Linked DNA regions of Homo sapiens: region 2 is reported to be linked to region 1. The links are microRNA targets in miRTarBase. Many come from high-throughput screens and were not tested one by one. Region 1 holds a microRNA gene; the other region holds the end of a gene's coding sequence.

Region 1 (4,511 bases):
GTCCTTGATCTCCATTTACACAGATGTCCCTGTCTCAAACCGTGGGAGAGCGGTGATGGAGAAGGAGACACACTGTCCTTGGGGATTGAGGAGGCAGTGGAGAGCATAGCATTTTAAGAGGTCTTATGCCAGTTTCTGTACCTACCCCCCTCAGCCTGGTAAATGAGGAGGTGCAGCGCCTTCCTCTTAGCTTCGCACTGAGCCAGGCACATACAAAGATGTTTCCATTTATTTTATTTTTATTTTTATTTTTTGAGACAGAGTCTTGCTCTGTCACCCAGGCTGGAGTGCAGTGGTGCGATCTTGGCTCACTGCAACCTCCACCTCCTGAGTTCAAGTGATTCCCCTGCCTCAGCCTCCTGAGTAGCTGGGATTACAGGTGCCCGCCACCACGCCCAGCTAATTTTTGTATTTTTAGTAGAGATGGGGTTTCACCATGTTAAGTCAGGCTGGTCTTGAACTCCTGACCTCATGGTCCACCCTCCTCGGCCTCCCAAAGTGCTGGGATTACAGGCCTGAGCCACCACGCCCGGACCTATTTATTTTATTTTATTTTATTTTTATGGCTTACTTTTTCTGTCTTAAGCTAGCTACTTCATTATCATCATTTACCCTCTGATAGTCACCCAAGTACTGAAGGCAAGCATTGTCTTTATTAAATCGAGAACTGATCACTTCACTGTCTCCTCTAAAACTTTGGATGCCCAACATCTCACATTGCTATAAGGAAAAGGCCAAAGTCCTTAGTCCAGCCACAAAAGTCCTCACAATCTGGCTAAAGCCGACTCTTCATTTCCTCTCCCACCTCTCCCACTCAGAAAACCTAAAGTGTAGGTAGCCACTGTGAGGAAACCTACCAATGTCAGCCATTCAGCGACATCTGGGTCCCACAGGGTGTTGTACAGGTGGCCACTAGAGGGACTCTTCTCAAAGTTAACAACAGAACGAGTGTGTCTCTGTGTGTGTGTGTGTGTGTGCGTGTGCGCGCGCACGCGTGCGTATGTACGTGTGTGTGCGCGCACGCGCGCGCCTGAGTAGCAGGTGGGTTTGAAGGCTTGATTATCAGCTTCCCCACCTAAAAGCAGTTGATAGAAGATGCTGACCTGGATTGGGGCCTTGGCTATTTACTCGGGCAGGTTGGATCAGGCCCTGGGGAGCAGGGAGGAAAGTGGGGGTGGGAATGGAAGGAGGGAAGGAGCCCTGGAAAGTTTGGTATAGACCAGCTTTGCTTTCTTAACCCTCCCCATATGCATTCAGGGACGGAAGACAATGGGATACATTTTTGAGTTAGAGCTTGAATCCCTTGCTTTCCTAATTCAAGAATTTAGGGGCCACATAGAAATGGACAGCACTCTATCTAATCTCACTTCCCCTACTCAGGAATCAAATGGAGTCACAGAGTGGGGAATATTTATACTTTGTATTTTAGGAGAAAAAAATACATTGAGGTATAAGATAAAATATTTGCTCTCTAATACCTAACGAATCAGTATTTTATAAACACCTAATTATTAGTCTTACAGAACTTAATTACTTAAGAGTCAGGTTGATTAAAATATTGCATCTTTTAGGCTGCTTATATGTGATATTTTATAAAACCAGAATGATGACAACATGGTTTATAATTGTCATTGCTTTCGTGACCACATTTTGGCTATTTTAGAATGAAGTTCAATTTTCTCAAACTGATGTTCAAGACCCTCAAGCATATGACCTGCATTTCCCTCAGGCAGCTGAGCAATCTTACTGCCAGCTCCCAGGTGCCTGTTCACTTCTCTCTTTTGCTGTCAGAGTTCTTCATGCTAGGAACTTGCCCTGCCCTCTCCTTGCCTTCCAAATATAATCCTTTTAGAGATAGCTGTTCTGTCATCCTTAGAATCTGCATCACAGACTTCAAAACTGTAGAATATGTTATACTGTTTCTATTTGTTTCTTCAAGTTGCATGTGCAGAAGCCTCATTCCTAAACAAAACTGTAAGCTACTTAAAGATAAGGACTGTGTCAATTTTTTCTTTTTCTCTTCTTTCCTTTTCTTTTTAAATTCTTAGGGTCAGGCCAGTAGCAGCAGGCTGTCAATAAATGTCTCTGAATTACCTCTAAATTTGCCACTTGTTCAAAGGCAGACATTTGACTTGGAAGTGCACTAGGAGCTAAAGGGAACCAGCAATAATAAAACCCGGTGAAATGCAATTTCCTGTTTTGTGTAGCACTCGAGTCAAATATTTCTGCCCTATCTCCTAGGAAATATAGAACAAATCGAAATTGAAAAAATGTAAGGAAGTCATCCTGAATGGTTGCTAAAGAAACAAAATAAAGCATCAGGTTTTCCTAACCATGGATTCCACGGCCGACAATTTGAACAGTAAGGCCAACCTTGGCCATGTGTGGCCCAGAGCCGGCCCGCACCTGTGCAGGTGTGGCTCATATTCCATTCTTTTCTGTTGGTTTTGGTTAACATTTACATCCTCCACTGCAGGTGAGAGGCTGACTGGAGGGTGCTTTCCTGGCAGCCAAGGCAAATGGCCATGGACCAGATGGCACCGGGTGTGTGTGGAAGGGCCGGCGGTCCTTCTCTCCTCTTCTGCGGAGTCCTCGGTGTTGCAGGCCTGGAGTGCAGCAGTGGAGGCAGAAGCCAGACTACATTTCCAAGACCCTCCTTCTGCCAGCTGCTTCTGCTGGGGGTCTGCCTGCGAGAGGCACTGATAGAAGGTGAAAGCAGGAAGAAGAAATGAGCCTCTGTGGCCTCCGGCCCCTTGAAGGGACCTCTGGCCACGGCAGCAGCCAGAGGGTGTGGGCTCCTGGTTCCCGATCAGGACCCCGCGCAGCCCCATCAGCACAGTGGCAAAGCCTCCAACAGGCCAGTGCCGTGCTGGCCGGTCGGGTGCCAGCATCCTGATGTCTGGGTGATCTCCTTCTCCCTTGTGCTCCCCCAGCCCCTTCAGCACCTTTTGCAACCAGTTTTCTGCATGAAATCCCGGCCTCAGCATGAACTATGTAAAGCTGGGCCCACACCTGGTAGACAGGCTGCAGTGAGGGGTGTGTTCAGCAGGCCTGAATTTCAGCCATAAATTTGGGGATAAGAGAAATATTGCATTTCCTTTGCTTTTTTTCTTTTTTCTTTTCTTTTCTTTTTTTTTTTTTTTTTGAAACAAGGTCTCGTTCTGTTGCCCATGTGGGAGTACAGTGGCACAATCATGGCTCACTGCAACCTCAGACTCCTGGGCTCAAGCAATCCTCCCACCTCAGCTCCCTGAGTAGCTGGGACCACAGCCTTGAACCACCACACTTGGCTAATTTTTGCAGTTTTGTAGAGACGGAATCTTACCATGTTGCTCAGGCTGGTCTCTAACTCCTGGGCTCAAGTGATCCTCTCATCTTGGCCTCCCAAGGTGGTAGGATTACAGGTGTGAGCCACCGTGCCTGACCGTGTTTGCTTTTTTTTTTTTTTTTTTGGAGATGGAGTCTCTCTGTGTCGCCCAGGCTGGAGTGCAATGGCGCAATCTCAGCTCACTGCAAGCTCCGCCTCCCAGGTTCATGCCATTCTTCTGCCTCAGCTTCCCGAATAGCTGGGACTACAGGTGCCCGCCACCACGCCCGGCTAATTTTTTGTATTTTTAGTAGAGATAGGGTTTCACCGTGTTAGCCAGGATGATCTCGATCTCCTGACCTTGTGATCCACCTGCCTCGGCCTCCCAAAGTGCTGGGATTATAGGCGTGAGCCACCGCGCCCGGCCTGCTTTTCTTAAATAAACTTAATTTAACCTTCAAGTCCGGTGACTGCTGGGCAGTCATCGCTAGGGCTGTGCTGATGTCCTAGGGGAGCACAGAGGTTCTGGCCATTCTTGGAGCGAGGCACTGGTGAGGCCCCCAGGTTGCAGTGAGGAGGCCCCCACTGTCTTAGTCTGTACCGTGCTTCAGGGCTGCCAGCTGTGTTGGGCCTTCTTCTACTGGGAGCACAGAAGCCTTTGTTAAGTTTGGGGCCCAGGCCTAGGATGCAGCCTGCCTGGGGCATCGCACAGTGCTTCCCTCTGAGGTCCTGCCACCTCGTGAGGTCTGCCAGGGAATAGGATGCTGGTCCTGTTTCCTTGTAGGAATCACACACTTCTCTCTCCTGTCTCTACCCTGGAGGAATTTCCTTTGGGTCTGAGACAATTCTTTCCCCACCTCTGCTTCCTTCAAAGTCCGTCTATCTTGTCTCAATAAGCCTATGCTTTTGGAAATAAAAGCCAGGAAGGGGCCTTGAAGGGACTACCACTTCCTGCCCTGCCTCAAATCTCCCCTGAGGTAAGGAGGCCAGGATCTCCTATCTGCTCAAATGGCAGAAAGGAAGGAGAACTCCAGAGAGAAGAATTTAAACTGATTTCTTCAAAGCTTCTCCTGCCAGAATTGAATATGCCGAGGAGCTGTATCACTTCTGTAGCATTCCTGCCAATATGCCCTAATCTGAATCTAACCATGAAGAAACAACCAAATTCGAATTGAATAACAGTCTACAAAATGTCTGCCTGTAC
Region 2 (4,006 bases), not on the chromosome of region 1:
GAGTCCTGGCACCTGTCACCCCTGCTGTGTGTGGGGCTCTGGGCACTGCGGCTGTGGGGCGCCCTACGGCTGGGGGCTGTTATTCTCCGCTGGCGCTACCACGCCTTGCGTGGAGAGCTGTACCGGCCGGCCTGGGAGCCCCAGGACTACGAGATGGTGGAGTTGTTCCTGCGCAGGCTGCGCCTCTGGATGGGCCTCAGCAAGGTCAAGGAGGTGGGTACGGCCCAGTGGGGGGGAGAGGGACACGCCCTGGGCTCTGCCCAGGGTGCAGCCGGACTGACTGAGCCCCTGTGCCGCCCCCAGTTCCGCCACAAAGTCCGCTTTGAAGGGATGGAGCCGCTGCCCTCTCGCTCCTCCAGGGGCTCCAAGGTATCCCCGGATGTGCCCCCACCCAGCGCTGGCTCCGATGCCTCGCACCCCTCCACCTCCTCCAGCCAGCTGGATGGGCTGAGCGTGAGCCTGGGCCGGCTGGGGACAAGGTGTGAGCCTGAGCCCTCCCGCCTCCAAGCCGTGTTCGAGGCCCTGCTCACCCAGTTTGACCGACTCAACCAGGCCACAGAGGACGTCTACCAGCTGGAGCAGCAGCTGCACAGCCTGCAAGGCCGCAGGAGCAGCCGGGCGCCCGCCGGATCTTCCCGTGGCCCATCCCCGGGCCTGCGGCCAGCACTGCCCAGCCGCCTTGCCCGGGCCAGTCGGGGTGTGGACCTGGCCACTGGCCCCAGCAGGACACCCCTTCGGGCCAAGAACAAGGTCCACCCCAGCAGCACTTAGTCCTCCTTCCTGGCGGGGGTGGGCCGTGGAGTCGGAGTGGACACCGCTCAGTATTACTTTCTGCCGCTGTCAAGGCCGAGGGCCAGGCAGAATGGCTGCACGTAGGTTCCCCAGAGAGCAGGCAGGGGCATCTGTCTGTCTGTGGGCTTCAGCACTTTAAAGAGGCTGTGTGGCCAACCAGGACCCAGGGTCCCCTCCCCAGCTCCCTTGGGAAGGACACAGCAGTATTGGACGGTTTCTAGCCTCTGAGATGCTAATTTATTTCCCCGAGTCCTCAGGTACAGCGGGCTGTGCCCGGCCCCACCCCCTGGGCAGATGTCCCCCACTGCTAAGGCTGCTGGCTTCAGGGAGGGTTAGCCTGCACCGCCGCCACCCTGCCCCTAAGTTATTACCTCTCCAGTTCCTACCGTACTCCCTGCACCGTCTCACTGTGTGTCTCGTGTCAGTAATTTATATGGTGTTAAAATGTGTATATTTTTGTATGTCACTATTTTCACTAGGGCTGAGGGGCCTGCGCCCAGAGCTGGCCTCCCCCAACACCTGCTGCGCTTGGTAGGTGTGGTGGCGTTATGGCAGCCCGGCTGCTGCTTGGATGCGAGCTTGGCCTTGGGCCGGTGCTGGGGGCACAGCTGTCTGCCAGGCACTCTCATCACCCCAGAGGCCTTGTCATCCTCCCTTGCCCCAGGCCAGGTAGCAAGAGAGCAGCGCCCAGGCCTGCTGGCATCAGGTCTGGGCAAGTAGCAGGACTAGGCATGTCAGAGGACCCCAGGGTGGTTAGAGGAAAAGACTCCTCCTGGGGGCTGGCTCCCAGGGTGGAGGAAGGTGACTGTGTGTGTGTGTGTGTGCGCGCGCGCACGCGCGAGTGTGCTGTATGGCCCAGGCAGCCTCAAGGCCCTCGGAGCTGGCTGTGCCTGCTTCTGTGTACCACTTCTGTGGGCATGGCCGCTTCTAGAGCCTCGACACCCCCCCAACCCCCGCACCAAGCAGACAAAGTCAATAAAAGAGCTGTCTGACTGCAATCTGTGCCTCTATGTCTGTGCACTGGGGTCAGGACTTTATTTATTTCACTGACAGGCAATACCGTCCAAGGCCAGTGCAGGAGGGAGGGCCCCGGCCTCACACAAACTCGGTGAAGTCCTCCACCGAGGAGATGAGGCGCTTCCGCTGGCCCACCTCATAGCCAGGTGTGGGCTCGGCTGGAGTCTGTGCAGGGGCTTTGCTATGGGACGGAGGGTGCACCAGAGGTAGGCTGGGGTTGGAGTAGGCGGCTTCCTCGCAGATCTGAAGGCAGAGGCGGCTTGGGCAGTAAGTCTGGGAGGCGTGGCAACCGCTCTGCCCACACACCCGCCCCACAGCTTGGGCAGCCAGCACACCCCGCTGAGGGAGCCCCATATTCCCTACCCGCTGGCGGAGCCGCTTGATGTGGCGGAGCCGGGCAATCCACTTGGAGGGGTAGATATCGGTGGGGTTGGAGCGGCTATGATGCACCTGTGAGGCCATCTGGGGACGTAGGCAGGGGGTGAGCTCACTATCAGGTGGCACCTGGGCCTGTCCCACCAGCTCACGCCTGGACCCACCCCCACTCACATTTGCGTGCAGGGCCATCTGGCGGGCCACGAAGGGCAGGTTGCGGTCAGACACGATCTTGGCCACGCTGGTGTCCACAAGGCCCTCCATGTCTGGGGAGACTTGGTGGTCACGCCAGGCCCAGGGCTCTTGGCGCCACACTGCAGGGCCCCACCCGGCCCTACCTTTCCTGCACTGCAGGGCCCCACCCGGCCCTACCTTTCCTGCACTGCAGGGACACCAGGTTGCACTCGTAGTCCAGCGGGGTGACGATCACGTGGACAAAGTTGAACTGGCCCTGCCCGGACAAGAGAAAGGGTCATCCCCGCACACAGCGTGTGCTGAAGGCTGATCTCGGCTACTGCCTGGTTGCACTGCTAGACACCTGTCAGCTCCATGGGCAGCATCTGCCCCTGAACTTTCCCCTCTGGCAGCGGGGCTGTGTTTGTCTGGCCTCCCCCAGGCCAAGCCCCCTCCACATCTGGGCGCAGCACCCACATATGCTGCAGCCACAGGCAAGACACCTCTAATTGCTGGGGCACCTCCACTCACTGGGGCCCCCAGGGTGTCTGCAGCCACACGTCCGAATCCGTCTGCCCAGCCATGAAGTGAGCCGTGCACCCCATCTCGGCACCACCACACCCTCCTCAGCCGCCCAGGTGCCCCCCCCCCCCCAACTGGTTGTCTTGGCATCTAGCAGAGCCCACCTCCCTATGCTCCTGCCCCTCCTGGACTCTGACTACCAGCCCCGGGGTTTTGGTTCAGTGGCTGCCTCAGCATCCTGGGGCCCTTGGAGTGAGGCCTCCAGCCTATCTGCCCTGCCTGGGCCATGCCAGCTCTCCCCGCCATGCTGGGGCTCACCCGGACCGTGCTGTGACACTGGCCGACCCAGCCCACCTCCAGGAAGAGGGTGACGCTGGTTGCTGCCTAGTGGTGCGTGGCGATAACCAACTGAGCAGCCTGACAGCTGCCACTGGGGAGATGGTGGGGGCCCAAGGGCCGCGCCGGACAGACAGGAAGCACCAACTACACTGTGCCCACCCAGCACACCCAGTCTGCACTTGCCAGTTACTCCTGACAGACACTCAGCAGCAGGCGCCACAGGCTTCAGGGCACAGAGGACACAACGCAGGCTCGGGGTGAAGCTCGTGCCCACGGGGCCCTGAGCACTGCGGCCTCTCCTCCTGCTCCTCGTGACCGAAGCTCAGGGAGGAGGACCTGCCACCAACCCGGGACACAGCAGTGGGCACCTGCCTGGGGCCCAGCCTCACTGACGGCCCCTCACTCACCTTGATGGTGCCAAGCTTGAAGTCCTCACCGGAGTCATTGTAGACAATGGACACAAAGTCGTTGCCCAGGTGGCGCTTCTTGTCGCAGCGGTGCTTGTCCACGTCCTTGGTGGGCATCAGGGTGGCGATGTGGAAGACGGCTGAGGGTGAGCAGGGCCGGATGGGTTTGTGGGGCCAGTGCTGAGGCCCTCTGTGCCTTGCACTGGGGCACCTCCTGATTACTCCAGGGGCTCTGGGGGCCTGCGGGGACCACGTCCTCTGGTGCCTGGCCAGTGGTCCTCGGCTCTCCCCAGGGGCAGGGCTTTGGGACGCAAAGCCACCAGCCCCATCACTGCCTCCATGCCCACGCTGTTAGGCTCGGAACCTGAGGCGTGGGGAGC

What was found. Region 1 holds the annotated microRNA hsa-miR-6085 (AAGGGGCUGGGGGAGCACA, at 2,921-2,939, opposite strand). A microRNA usually pairs through its seed, bases 2 to 8, with sites in the 3' UTR of a target mRNA and lowers its output. Matches are read on the target gene's strand: a 7mer-m8 pairs with bases 2 to 8, a 7mer-A1 pairs with bases 2 to 7 and ends in A, and an 8mer does both.
Region 2: the mRNA of PKD1 is a reported target of hsa-miR-6085. Seed matches in the 3' UTR shown: 7mer-A1 at 1,148-1,154.

Annotation. Positions count from the first base shown.
Region 1 is chr15:62,341,539-62,346,049 of GRCh38, reverse strand. It overlaps MIR6085 (microRNA 6085), which reads right to left and starts at 3,021; the gene lies at 2,912-3,021. RefSeq lists an enhancer at 518-1,018.
Region 2 is chr16:2,086,492-2,090,497 of GRCh38, reverse strand. PKD1 (polycystin 1, transient receptor potential channel interacting) reads left to right here. Exons shown (of 46, transcript NM_001009944.3): 45 at 1-213; 46 at 304-1,790. The coding sequence ends at 771. TSC2 (TSC complex subunit 2) reads right to left here. Exons shown (of 42, transcript NM_000548.5): 38 at 3,627-3,766; 39 at 2,557-2,635; 40 at 2,359-2,450; 41 at 2,173-2,271; 42 at 1,007-2,052. The coding sequence ends at 1,888. It overlaps MIR1225 (microRNA 1225), which reads left to right and starts at 214; the gene lies at 214-303.